4 linked regions of the Homo sapiens genome follow. The protein of the gene in region 3 purifies or fractionates together with the protein of the main gene of each other region. This does not show direct contact. Each region holds a gene or a part of one and is shown on either strand. Other genes may lie near its edges.

Region 1 (3,500 bases), on a different chromosome or scaffold from region 3:
AACATCAAAATTGGACAGTTTTCGGGCCAGGGGAACCTTAGAGGTCACCTAGTTTAAACAGCCTGTGTTTCATATAGGAAAACCTGAGCTCCAGAAGGGGAAGTGATCTCTGGGAAGTCTTGTAGCGATGGACACTGAGTTGGAGCAGGAGCTGCTGGGACCCCTCCCTGTCCCACGCCATTAGACCTGGGGACTGGCAGCCTCTGGCTAATTTGCCAGGCTCTAATTCTCTCCAACTGCACCCAGCCAGCACTGGTTTTGTGACAAGTTCCTGATTCCTTCTAGATATTTTGCATTATTGAAAGTGTTCCATAAAGTATATTACATTTGCTCCTTTTAAAGGTATATACAAAACGACCTCATATCAAAAACTGGGAGAACAGACGAAAAAGAAATCATGCCATAATCTTCCAGCTGTAATACAATCACAGGCAGCATTTTGGTTTCTTTTCGGTCACTTATGTTTCCTCTCCTAGCTCCTTTCTTACATTGCCTTGAACCTGGTTATTTGGGCACCTCGGGAACCTCCTCCCCTGCCAACACTGGCTAGCACTGAAGCCCAAGCACTGCTCTGTTGCTTCTTCCTGAGGGCTCCGTGTCTGAGCACCTTTCTGCTGGGTTGAAGTTGCCTCCTCATTGATTCTTTCCCTGTCATGGAGTCCCAGGGTATTCTGGGTGCTCCAGCAAGGGGGCGCTGTCTTGGAGAAAGTGAGTGGCTCAGATTGGTTTCCCAGGGGTGGAGCCTGAGGCAGGATTCTGCTGCCCTAGTTTACAGAGAAAGTGCTCTGTTGGGCAGCTGGATAGGGAAGGGAGGCTGCCTGCAGGTTGTCCTGCCTTCAGGCGAAGAGACCAAGCTTTGAGCTTTTGTACCCACTGTCAGGCAGCCATTGGTTCCCCTGGGGAAGGGGATGTTGTGCGACCTCCCGGGCCTCTGGCGGAGACACTCTGTTTTGAATTACGACCTGCAGCTCCCCTGGCTGAGGTGGGGAGGGGATGTGGACCTGCCTGGTGAACAACATCCAGACACAGCATGCACAGTGACTGCCATACCAAGCTGTTCACAGACTTCTCCTTTCCTGCCCCTGACAGTCTCTCCTGGGCACCTTGGAGCCATCTAACACGTGTGCCAGGCCTGGTCCTGCACCAGGGTACACCCTCTCTTATGTGGTCTGGGGCACTTCTCAGTCACAGGTGTAAGGATTCTCAAACAGGTAGATGGGAGTCCTTTCAGGGCCAGGGAGGGCACTGGTCCCTATGCCGTGGAGCTTGGCCTTGGGGCATGCTGTACCCCAGGCAGTTCAGATGACCCCTGGGGAGTCCCTCTTTGCTGAGGGGTGACTGTGGGAGGCCAGAGGCCAGCACTACCCTTGCGTGTGGATGTCCTGGGTCCCTCTCCCTGCCCCAGCAGGGGAAGCTGCAGCAAATCCCCTCACAGGCCTTCGTGGGTGAAGTTGGGCACTAAGGGTGAGGGATGCACGCTGAGCCAAGTCAGAGTGTCATCTGGCCTAGCTGGCTTCTGCTGGGCTCAGGGACCCTGAGCCTCTGGGACGGGCACGTCAGCAGGTCACATGCTGGAAACTTGCACAGGTGAGGCAACAGGGCCTGTAAGAAGTTGCCCCATAGTCAAAATAAAAAATTCACAAAGTGGAAACAACCCAAAAGAGGGAGTTGAATTCGACGGGAGGCCCCCAGTTTGCTCTTCTGTACCTCCTTCACTTGGCCTTCCCTGAGCCCACACCTGTACTTCTGCTCTTTTCGTTGAGAGTGTTTTCCCCTGTACCACTCAATTTGTGTGCATGCTGCATCCCCACACACCTAGGCCAAATCTCTGTCTCCTTCCTTATGCCTGGCCTTAGAGTCACAGGCTTTGGTCGATTGCGTTATCATCTGGGCCTATTTGATGGCATTTCTGGCAGTTAGAAAGTGGGGTGGAGAAACCAGAGCTCCCGCAGGGCCTGGGAGAGGGCACACGGTGAAGACCCGTCCTGCCTGAGCACCAGGGGACAAGCACTGATGGACGACACATATTTCACCGAGGAGGGCTGGAGAGTCACTGAATAAGAGGTGACAAATGTCTGTGACTCTTTTTATTTTTTGAGATGGAGTCTCGCTGTGTTGCCAGGCTGGAGTGCAGTGGCACGATCTCGGCACACTGCAACCTCCACCTCCCAGGTTCAAGCTATTCTCCTGCCTCAGCCTCTCAAGTAGCTGGGACTACAGGCACATACCCAGCTAATTTTTGTATTTTTAGTAGAGACAGGGTTTCACCATGTTGGCCAGGATGGTCTAGATCTCTTGACCTTGTGATCTACCCGCCTCAGCCTCCCAAAGTGCTGGGATTACAGGCATGAGCCACCACACCCACCTGTCTGTGACTCTTACTATGAGCCAGGCACTACTTGAGGTCCTGGGATGTGACAGTGAAGCAGCAGGAGATGCCCTGCTCTCAGGGACTCACAGTTGATTGCCGGAGTTAAACGGTTAATTAAGATGAGATCTGTGGATGCATGTGAGGCAGGAGTAAGTCCTGAAGGAAACAGAACTGCAAGGCATGGAATGTGTTTTGGGGAGGGCGCTCAGCATAAGCCTCCTGGGAGTCGAACTAGGAGTGGAGTGGGGTTGAGTTGGAGGGGACAGCAAGTGCAAAGGGCCGGAGGAGAGATAGAGCTTGTCAGAAGTGCGCAAAGGCAGCACGTTTGGCCAGGGCAGCAGGGCTGGGAGGGAGGGTGGAGAGGTTGGCAGGGCGGGGCCATGTGGGACCTTGTGGGCTGTGGTTAGGAGACAGGAAGGAGAATGCCAGGTCAGATGTGGGCAGGGTTAGACTGGGCCTGGTTTTTGGGCCTCGTTCTCCCTGGCCCCTGAGGGCTGTCTGTAGCTGTGGCCCCTGCAGGGCTGGACCGGGCCTTGCTCAACTCCCTTCACCAGGCCCGCAGCAGGGAAGTGCCAGGAAGTGTCTGTGGACCTGGGTTGACTTGGGCCTTGGGTGATTTTCTTCCTGCTTCCTTTGTGGGTCCCCCACTCTGCCTGAGCTCTGTCAGCCCCACGAGGTGGCTTCCGCTCTGTAGACACTGCCTTTGGGCACCGTTAGGGGCTGGACCCCGCGGGTGGATGGGAGGTGGCGTGTGTCATCCACCACCCTCACCCATCCTTGTTCTTTGTGCAACTCTCACTTCTCTTTTCTTTTCACTGTTGCTTTCTGGCCTGACCCAGGTCCCTGAGTTCCCCTATGGCCTGCCTGCCTCCTGTTCCTGTGTTGTGAAGAGTGGGGAGCACCCCCTCAAAAGCAGTGCCTGCCAGACGCCAGCACATTCTGTGTGCCAGTGGGGCCTCATGCGACAGTGGGAATGAGAAAAATTCACTCTTTCAAAACTCACTGTCAGTCCTTTAATTTTCCTCAAAATAAAAGTTTTCTTCTGGTGTCTGTATGTGGTTTACATATTTTTTTATTTTAAATTGTGGTAAAATATATATAACATATAATCGACCTCCTTAACCATTTT
Region 2 (2,798 bases), on a different chromosome or scaffold from region 3:
AAAATTCAACCAACTAGCTCAGAAGAGGGGAGAAGGCCAAGGTTGAGAGAAGAGTCACAGCCTGTCAGGCAGATAGCTGGCCTCCGGCGGGAAGGCCATTTCCCTGAGCACTTGCAGAGGAAGACAGGGTGGTGGCAGGACTGGAGTGGCAGTGGCTCCCAAGGCTCTCTCCTCCAACATGTGCATCTGCCATCTGCTCTGCAGTCCTGCCGCAGGATTCCCTAGTGAAGCAGCTCAGGCCTGGGGGAGCCGTGTGTATCCCAGCTGTGCCGGCAGCATCATACCAATCGTGGGGGTGGTGAAGGAGCCAGGGGTTCATTCATGGTTGGTTTCTGATCAGGCATCTTGGGAATGGATAATGGAGGCAGCCGCTTTCAGGACAGGCATGTCCAGGGGCTCCTCCCAGCCTCTACCCCGAAGTCCTCTTCCCAAGTGACCCCAGTGATGTTTCCATTGAGATGCGCTCCTGGCTATGGCAGGCACCTTCTCAACTTATATGTGGGAAGGGGTCCCCCATGCTTGGGGGACCTAGGCAGCTGGCTTGGCCCAAGAGAGATGAGGATGGAGGCCAAACCAAAGGGGGGCGCCAATCCCCTGTCCAACACCTTCTCACCAAAAGCTCCCGTTTGGCTGGAGGCAGACCCTGTGGCTCTGACCAGACTTCTCTGGCAGCAATCCTCCACCATTTGTATCTTAAGAAGGCCCTCACCCTCTTTGAGTGGAGTCAGAGGATGCCTCAGATTCCAGATGTAAGCATCAGAACTGCTTTCTGTCAAGAGCTCCCTAATTTTGGGAAAGAAGAGCCTGTCCCACACTGTCAGGCCCTGAGGTCAGCAGATCTGCTCCTCCTTCCCGTGCGGTACGTCTAGGTGCTGATGAGGGCAGTCCAGGGCGCTCTTGTTCTGGGACAGGCTCCAGTCCCCTTGCTCCAGCAGGTCTGGGGCAAGGAGGTCAGAGGTGGTGGGAGGGCCCCTGCTCTCTGTTTCCACTTCGTCTGGATCCTTGCTGCTGCAAAGTGGCACTGATTCTAGCTCTGTCCCTTCCTCCTTGGCTTTCCGGCTCCGATGGGGCCAGTGGCAGGGTCCACTCCTACAAACTTGATTGGAAGCCACATTCCTCTGGCTCAAATATACTTCCAGCATGTAGTAAACAGTCCAGAAGACGGTGAAACAGCCTACCAGCACCAGGGTCTGGGGCCGAGGCAAGCACCTACGTGAGGCACTGTTTCCCGAAGCCTACAGCCTTTCTCAGCCCAGGACAATGAGCTCAGAAAGTCTTTTTCCTTCTAGGGACTGCCTTTTTCACCCAAACTGTTCCCTCTGCCCCCTCCCCCGACAAGGCCTGTCCTGTAAGAGTTAGGCTAGCAGGGTAGGAGCAATGCTATGAAACCACTGCTGGGACCCAGGTCTTCCCAGTCCTTCACCCCGCAGGTCACCCTGAGAAACACACTAAGAACTCCATCCCCCAGACAGGACAGTCCCATCTACCCGCAGCTTGAGTCTTGGCCCTAGTACCTTGAGGGTGTTGGGGGTGATGGTGTAACCATCTTCCTCAGGAATTTTCAGCCCCGGTGGGCAGGGCAGGGCGAAGTCATCGTGCAGGTATTTTCCACTCATGGCACTCTCTAACAGCCTGTGGAGAAGAAAAGAGGTGAGGATGCCCCACTGACTATGGTTCCTATACCATCTGCCCTCACCCATTTTCCTGCCTTACAGGTGAAGACAGGGAAGCCCCACAGCAAAAAGGAGAGGCCCAGACTGTGAGTTCCCAGCCCGGGGCTCCATCTACCGGCTTGACGCTGGAACTGGGAAGCACAGCTGGGGTTCAGAGGGCGATGGGCTCCCTAGGCGGCCCTTCCCCTGTGACTGGCCTTCCCTCTGACACATGCGGCTTTACCCACCTTTGTCTGTCCCTGATGTCTACTGCACTCCACACAGAGCCATATAGGGTCAGCTGCCATTGCCGGAGGATGCCGACCTGGAATGACTCATCCCCTAGGGCAGCAAGGGGCAGCTCGTGAGCCACGCCCCTCTGTCAGCCATGCCAGACAGCAGAGGCCCTGCCCGCCCTGCCACCCAAAGGGGCTCAGGCCACATGGTCTGCTCCAGGAGCTGCCTCACTGTGTCCCACTGACCCCAGGTTCTGCAGAAGGGCCTCACTGGGTGCCCTTAGGGATGGAAAGGGTTGAAAGGCTGTACTCCAAAGCAGAGTCTTGCTTTTCTCTCCCGTATTTTGGGGGTTCAGCTGGGATTAGAAAAAAATGTCTTTCCACCAAATTAAAGAAAGCTTTGAAAACCACTGGCCTAGAGAATACCTAACTGACTGGAGGATGGGAGGGTGGAGCTCAATTTCCAGTCTATAGGCTGATACTAAAGATATTCACAATTCATGGATATTGTGGCCTTCACTGATATGGTGACCTTCCACAAGTCACCTCAAACCTCTGGGCCAGTTTAAAAAAAATGGTGAAATGAGTCCTGCCCTTACCTGCCTACCGGGGCTGGCCGAAGGATGGTTATACGTAAAAGGACTTGAAATGTGGTTTCGACAAGGACTTTTTGTTGCTATCCTGAGGAAAGATGGATGGGTCACTCCTCCAGGGAATATGAGAGGTAGTATAAATGAACAGTTGCAGAGAGCAATGCCCATTTCACGGATGGGCACACTCTTGGCATCAACTCTCTTGGTCCAATGGCAACCCTATATATTGCACACGGGACACTTTCTGTGGGGACTCTGAGATGCAGAGGGACCAGATAACAAGCAGGAAAGGTAGGGCCTGGTGTGAGGGCACGAGA
Region 3 (3,500 bases):
CCAGAAAAGGTTTATAGAGGAGGTGACATGCTTAATATGGCAGTTACATAATATGAAAATTTACTCCAGTATATAAAATAGCAAAATTGTTCCAGAATGTATTTGATGTTTGCCTAATTTTTTTTTTTCATCTTTTTAAATGAGGTCGAGGCTTGAAGAGTGGAGAGAACTTTAAGTTGTTATATGACTTGGCAGATCAACTACATGCTGCAGGTAAAGTTATTTTCCTTAGTAGAAAGATATTCCCTTTTTGTTGGAAATATTTTTTCTTCATTATTTCATTTTTGTGTAAGTCTTTCAGCCCTACAAATTATTTTACTTTTCCGGATTTTTCAGTTTTTCTCTCTGAACCAGTTTTTCTTAAGCCTCCAAGTAAATGGTATATAGCATTCAGTGAGGAGAAGGCCTCCTAGTATCTCTTACCTTTGCCTAATCTTAGTAGGTTTTCTTTTTTCTTCACTTTAAAAATAATGAAATGGGCCAGGCGCAGTGACACACACCTGTAATCCTAGCACTTTAGGTTGCTGAGGCAGGAGGACTGCTTGAGCCCAGGAATTTGAGACCAGCCCTAGCAATGTAGTGAGACCCCATCTCTACAAAACGTTTAAAAATTAGCCAGGCATATTGGTGTGTGCTTGTAGTCCCAGGTACTCAGGAGGCTGAGGTGGGAGGATTGCTTGAGCTTGAGAGGTGGAGGCGACAGTGCACTGTGGTCGTGCCACTGCATTCCAGTCTGGGCAACAGAGTGAGACCCTGTCTCAAAAATAATAAAAGACAAAATAATGAAATGTTAGTTTCAGTGCCTACTTCAGATTCAGGAATACCCTGGTTTTTCATCTTTTTTTTGGTGGTCTTAATATAACTCTTATACAAATAGAAATACATTTAAAGTTTTTAAGTTTGTAGTTAAAAATATAGAATTGTAGTTAACCATTTATAGGTAAGGTAGAACCTATTGCTAAAAGTACATTGATGAGAAGGGAGTGATGTTTTTTGAAAAACCAAAAAAATTTAAGCCAGGCACAGTAGCATGTGTCTGTAATCCCAGTTACTTGGGAGGCTGAGTTAGGAGGATTGCTTGAACCTAGGAATTTGAGACCAGCCTAGGCAACCTAATTGAGACCCTGTTTTGAAAAAAAATCTTTTTAAAGACATTTGATTATTTTTGAATTACACAATCACTACAATGAATATATATTAAAATGTCCCAATTCTGTCATCTCACCCTCCTTTTAAGACTTTAACATATAACTTTCGAGGGTTTTCCTGTAACTTTCTGTGGTTTTCCTGTGCGAAATTTCTATTACATAACACGTGTACCCATAGAAACAGTAATAGTTTTGTCAGAATAAAGGCATTATATTGACACTGTATAATCAGATGGTAGTATTTCAGGGTTTATTTTCATTCCTTCTTTCTTTGAACAAGTATTTATCAAGTGTCTGCCATATTCCAGGTACTATTTTAGGTGCTATTAGTTTATTTTGGCTACAGTAATAAGTTACTACAAACTTGGTGGCTTAAAGCAACAAAGTTTTTCTCTCACAGCTTTGGAGGCCAGAGATGTGTTGAAGTGTTAGCAGGGGCCATACTCCCTCTGGGGGCTCTAGGAGATAATCTGTTATTTTCCTCTTCCAGCTTCTGGTGGCTACTCTGATATCCCTGGGCTTGTGGCCACATCACTACAACCTCTGCCTCTGTCTTCATATCATCTTCTCTGTGGGACTGCATTCAGTCTCCTTCTGTGTCCCTCTTATAAGGATACATGGCAGGCGTGGTGGCTCATACCTGTAATGCCAGCACTTTGGGAGGCCAGGGTGGGCGGATCACCTGAGGTCCGGAGTTTGAGACTAGCCTGGCCAACGTGGTGAAACCCCATCTGTACCAAAAATATAAAAATTAGTTTGATGTGGTGGTGCACACCTGTAATCCCAGCTACTTGTGAGGCTGAGGCAGGAGAATTCCTTGAACCTAGAAGGCGGAGGTTGCAGTAAGCTGAGACTGTGCCACTGTACTCCAGCCTGGGTAACAGAGTGAGATGCCGTCTGGAAAAAAAAAAAAAAAAAAAAAAAGGATACGTGTAATGGCATTTAGGGCCCATGTAGATAATCCAGGATAAACTCCCTCTCAAGATCCTTAGCTTTATATATATCTGCTGCCACGTAGGTAATATTCACAGGTTCTGGGTATTAGGATGTGAATATATCATTGGAGGGGCCATTTTCTTGCCTACTACAGACACTTAACACCATAGATTAGTAAATAATATAATATGGGCCAGGCGTGGTGGCTTACGCCTGTAATCACCTGAGGTCAGGAGTTTGAGACCAGCCTGGCCAACATGGGGAAACCCCGTCTCTACTAAAAAATACAAAAATTAGCTGGGCGCAGTGATACGTGCCTATAGTCCCAGCTACTTGGGAGGCTAAGGCAGGAGAAACGCTTGAACCTGGGAGGCAGAGGTTGCAGTGAGCAGAAATCATGTCACTGCACCCTAGCCTGGGCAACAGGGCGAGACTCTGTCTCAAAAAAAAAAAAAAATGTTAGAGAGTCGTAAGTGTTAGGGAGACTAATAGGATGGGTTATGGGGGGTGGAGAATTGAAGGGAAAGATTGAAGTTTAAAATAAGATAGCCAGATTTGGCCTTAATGAGAAAGAGACATCTGGCTGGGTGTGGTGGCTCATGCCTGGAATCCCAGCACTTTGGGAGGCCAAGGCGGGCGGATCACTTGAGGCCAGGAGTTCAAGACCAGTCTGGCCCACGTGGTGAAACCCCGCCTCTACTAAAAATATAAAAATTAGCTAGGTGGGCGGATTTCTTGAGGCCAGGAATTCAAGACCAGCCTGGCCGACATGGTGAAACCCCACCTCTACTAAAAATACAAAAATTAGATGGGTATGGTGGCACGTACCTGTAGTCCTAGCTACTCAGGAGGCTGAGGCGGCAGGATCACTTGAACCATGAGGTGGAGGTTGCAGTGAGCTAAGATTGTGCCACTGTACTCCGGCCTGGGTGACAGAGACACTGTCTGAAAAAAAAAAAAAAAAAAAAGACATCTGAACAAAGGTTTGAAGGAGGTGAGGAAGCGACCCATGAGGAGATCTGAGGGAGAGTGTTCCAGACCAGAGCAACTAGTAAAGTGCACAGAGCCTGTCTAACGCAGGAACACATCTGGCCTATTTGACGAATAGGAAGGAGGCCAGTGTTGGAATGGAAAGTGCAAAAGAGAAAGTAGCAAGAGATAAAATTGGGAGGCAACACAAGACCAGATCACATAGGGCCTTATAGGACATTGTAGAGATTGCTCTTTCTCTGAATGAAATGGGGAACCATTTCAAGGTTTGAGCAGAAGAATGACATGATCTAACACATTTTTAAAGGATCACTTTGGCTGCAGTTTTGTGAATAAGCTGTAGGGGGTAAGTATAGTAATGGGGAGATCAATTAGCAGGCTATATCAGTCGTCTAGGTGGGAGATACTCATAGTTTGGACCAGGGT
Region 4 (3,500 bases), on a different chromosome or scaffold from region 3:
GGCCTCCTTTTCTTAAAGCAGTGTTTTGGTTTCTCCCACAGTATTCTGAAAAGGAGGACAAATATGAAGAAGAAATTAAACTTCTGTCTGACAAACTGAAAGAGGTGAGTGTGGTGGCACCCAGCGAGCTCTGGTTTCTCCTGGGGCTGGTCTTGAAGCCATGATAGTAACTCCTTTCTTCTTATCTAGGCTGAGACCCGTGCTGAATTTGCAGAGAGAACGGTTGCAAAACTGGAAAAGACAATTGATGACCTGGAAGGTATGAGGTTACCATCTAAATGTTTGCCTTGCCCTGCCTTCCCCTCTGGGACACATCCACGGACAGTTGGGGAATGTTTGTGGAGGGGCTGGGTTGGGCTTTGTTTGCCTTAGGAAAGTAAAGCGCATAGTGATGTCATATCTGGATGTCCTGGAACACTGGAATAGGATAATGCAAAGCATTCAGGCTTGAATGGCCCTTTTTTTTTTTTTTTTTTTTTTCTATGAGACGGAGTCTGGCTCTGTCTCCCAGGCTGGATGGAGTGCAGTGGCGCCATCTCGGCTCACTGCAACCTGCGCCTCCCGGGTTCAAGTGATTCTCCTGCCTCAGCCTCCCAGGTAGCTGGGACTACAGGCGTGTGCCGCCACACCTGGCTAATTGAATTGCCACTTTCAGGAGGTAAAATATCTCTGCTTAGTTAGTCCCATGAGCAAGTATAGAGAAAAGAGTATGGCTCTCTCTGATTAAAAAAATATTAATAATAAATTAAAAATCTCAGGCCAGGCGCAGTGGCTCAAGCCTGTAATCCTAGCACTTTGGGAGGCCGAGGCGGGCGGATCACTTGAAATCAGGAGTTTGAGACTAACCTGGCCAACATGGTGAAACCCCGTCTCTACCAAAAATAGAAAAAATTAGCCAGGCGTGGTGGTGCACGCCTGTAATCCTAGCTACTGGGGAGGCTGAGGCAGGGAGAATCCCTTGAACCTGGGAGGCGGAGGTTGCAGTAAGCCAAGATCACGCCACAGCTCTCCAGCCTGGGTGACAGAGCCAGACTCCGTCTCAAAAAAAAAAAAACTTCACAATTTCCTTCTGTTTGCTCATTTCTGATAGATGCCTTGCATTTTTTTTTTACATGCCTTGCATTTTTGCAGAAGCTCTGTCCCAGGGAGCTCAAAGCTTATCATAGTATTTAAAAAAAAAAACAGAAATACAGAAAGTGTAGGGACTGCAATAAAGACTAGTCTGCAAGTCTGGGGCCCACTTCTCCCAGAATTTTTTCAAGAGTTCCAGTGTTTAACATTCGGCCTCAGAAATTCCAGAATCTTGGGGTTCAAATGGAATCTTCCAAACTGCCCATCCCACCCAGAAAGGACACATTCTTCAGACCATATCTTCCAATGTTTTTTTGGGGAAGTGAGGTTCCCATATAAGGGAAAATGCCCCATTCCAAAATACGACCTTTGGACAGGGTGACGTCATTGGAAATCCGAAATAAACTGAGGGGTGGGGACCAGTGGGGGGAAGCTCTGTCACTTCTGGTTACCACTGTTTTGAAGCTTCATTGTGGCTAATCCCCCTGCAGAACCTCAAACCACTTAGAGATCAACTCCATAGATCTTTGGTTTTCTTCATCTGTTTCACATGGAACACAGCTTTCTCCTAGTCTGTGCTTTGTTTGCTCACGTGTTTTTTTCTTCCTCTTGTGGTTCATCTGTGGCACTCCATTCCGACCCTTGCCTTCTGTCCCCTGTACTTCTGAACTGTCTCCCTGGGGACCTCCGCCCTCTAGATGAGTTATACGCTCAGAAGCTCAAGTACAAAGCTATCAGCGAGGAACTGGACCACGCTCTCAACGACATGACCTCTCTCTGAGAGGCAGCCAGGTCGCTGCCCTCTGTCCTTCTCACATGGTGCCTCCTACGCCCCTGTGGGCTTCTAGGAGCTCCGGTGGCCTGCCTTCTGGTTTGAACGTCAGAGCCTTCTTCTGATGTGTCTGTGACTCTACAACCGAAATAAAGACGGGCAGTCCTCCTCTTCATGCCCCCTCATTCTCATTTTCTCCACTTGCTGCCTTTGAGCTGTAGCTGTGTGCCCTTAACCATAGCCTGAAACACAAAGTGGGTGGTTAGCCTCTCTCACTCACAAATGAAAAGCTTATTACAAAAAGAAAATTATGCCTACAGGATGCTTTTCTGAAGACGTGAAAACAAAAGCAAACTGGGCATGTGCTCTCAGATACCGCTGTTAGCTAACGGCATCTGCATGCCAATAATTTTTTTTTGTTTTTTTGTTTTGAGACAGGGTCTTGCTTTGTCACCCAGGCTGGAGTGCAGTGACACCATCATAGTTCACTGCAACCTCCACCTACAAGGCTCAAGCTATCCTCCCACCTCGACCTCCCAAGTAGCTGGAACTACAGGTGTGCACCACCACACAAGGCTAATTTTTGTACTTTTTTTTTTTTTTTTTGAGGCGGAGTCTCACTATGTCGCCCAGGCTGGAGTGCAGTGGTGCAATCTCGGCTCACTGCAACCTCCGCCTCCCGGGTTCAAGCAATTCTCCTGCCTCAGCCTCCCAAGTAGCTGAGATTACAGGCATACACCACCACACCTGGCTAATTTTTCTTTTGGATTTTTAGTAGAGACAGGGTTTCACCATGTTGGTCAGGCTGGTCTCAAACTCCTGACCTTGTGATCCGCCTGCCTTGGCCTCCCAAAGTGCAGGGATTACAGGCTTGAGCCATCACGCCTGGCCATTTTTGTACTTTTTGTAGAAGCGGGAGGGTTTCACTATGTTGCCCAGGCTGGTCTTGAACTGCTGGGCTCAGGCAGTCTGCCCACCTCACCCTCCCAGGGTGCTGCAATTACAGGCATGAGCCACCGCGCCCATCCCCAATGGTTTTTCCTTAAATAGAAATTGTTGTGAATGGAGGCTCATCCTTGTAAACCGCTTAGGCAGCTTAAGAGTCAACAGGGATTTGGAAAAACCAGCAAGCCTGTGTCAAAAATGAGGCTCCCCTTGAATGGGGCTTGAGCTACAGATTCAAACAGCGGCAGTGACATTTTGATCTCCATTTCCTCCTTTTCTTGTGTCTTTTCTCTGTGTTACACTGTGAGTGTGGTGACTGGGGCTTCCCGTGGCTTTACTCTTCACTGTTCATCCAGCTCCCAGTCCTGGGAGGAAGTTCACCTCCACGCCCTGCCCTTAGAAAACTGACTGTACAAGGAGTGAACGGGCCTCCATGAACAGGGAAAGTGCTGTGACGTCAGAAGACGTGAATTTAGAATTCTTTTCCCGAATTCCAGAATTGCCTGAGACTGCTAACATCAATCTCCATTCATATTTCAGTTAGTTATAACAGGAACCTTGCTTTAGTTTAGAATAGCTCTTAAGGTTGACCTGTGGGTAATAAAAGGTCATGCTTTTTCCTACATGAGGAATATGGAGAAAACAAGGTCACTCTTTTTTTTTTTTTTTTTTTTTTTTTTTTTTTTTTCAAGACAGGGTCTCACTCTGTTGC

The links.
Region 1: the proteins of ETFA (region 3) and NUP210 fractionate together in Homo sapiens (co-fractionation; one large-scale study listed by BioGRID). This does not show direct contact.
Region 2: the proteins of ETFA (region 3) and TAGLN fractionate together in Homo sapiens (co-fractionation; one large-scale study listed by BioGRID). This does not show direct contact.
Region 4: the proteins of ETFA (region 3) and TPM4 fractionate together in Homo sapiens (co-fractionation; one large-scale study listed by BioGRID). This does not show direct contact.

Annotation. Positions count from the first base shown.
Region 1 is NC_000003.12:13,413,823-13,417,322, reverse strand, and holds part of NUP210 (nuclear pore membrane glycoprotein 210 precursor), read left to right. Parts: intron 1-3,500. UniProt on the Homo sapiens protein: Nucleoporin essential for nuclear pore assembly and fusion, nuclear pore spacing, as well as structural integrity.
Region 2 is NC_000011.10:117,205,167-117,207,964, forward strand, and holds the end of TAGLN (transgelin), read left to right. Parts: 3' UTR 1-830; coding exon of another isoform or gene 831-1,190; 3' UTR 1,191-1,514; coding exon of another isoform or gene 1,515-1,632; 3' UTR 1,633-1,900; coding exon of another isoform or gene 1,901-1,994; 3' UTR 1,995-2,298; downstream 2,299-2,798. Other genes in the region: PCSK7 (proprotein convertase subtilisin/kexin type 7 preproprotein), read right to left, coding at 831-1,190, 1,515-1,632, 1,901-1,994. UniProt on the Homo sapiens protein: Actin cross-linking/gelling protein. Involved in calcium interactions and contractile properties of the cell that may contribute to replicative senescence.
Region 3 is NC_000015.10:76,280,470-76,283,969, reverse strand, and holds part of ETFA (electron transfer flavoprotein subunit alpha, mitochondrial), read left to right. Parts: intron 1-144; coding exon 145-213; intron 214-3,500. UniProt on the Homo sapiens protein: Heterodimeric electron transfer flavoprotein that accepts electrons from several mitochondrial dehydrogenases, including acyl-CoA dehydrogenases, glutaryl-CoA and sarcosine dehydrogenase.
Region 4 is NC_000019.10:16,093,495-16,096,994, forward strand, and holds part of TPM4 (tropomyosin alpha-4 chain), read left to right. Parts: intron 1-41; coding exon 42-104; intron 105-189; coding exon 190-259; intron 260-1,769; coding exon of another isoform or gene 1,770-1,852; exon of another isoform or gene 1,853-3,250; intron 3,251-3,500. UniProt on the Homo sapiens protein: Binds to actin filaments in muscle and non-muscle cells. Plays a central role, in association with the troponin complex, in the calcium dependent regulation of vertebrate striated muscle contraction.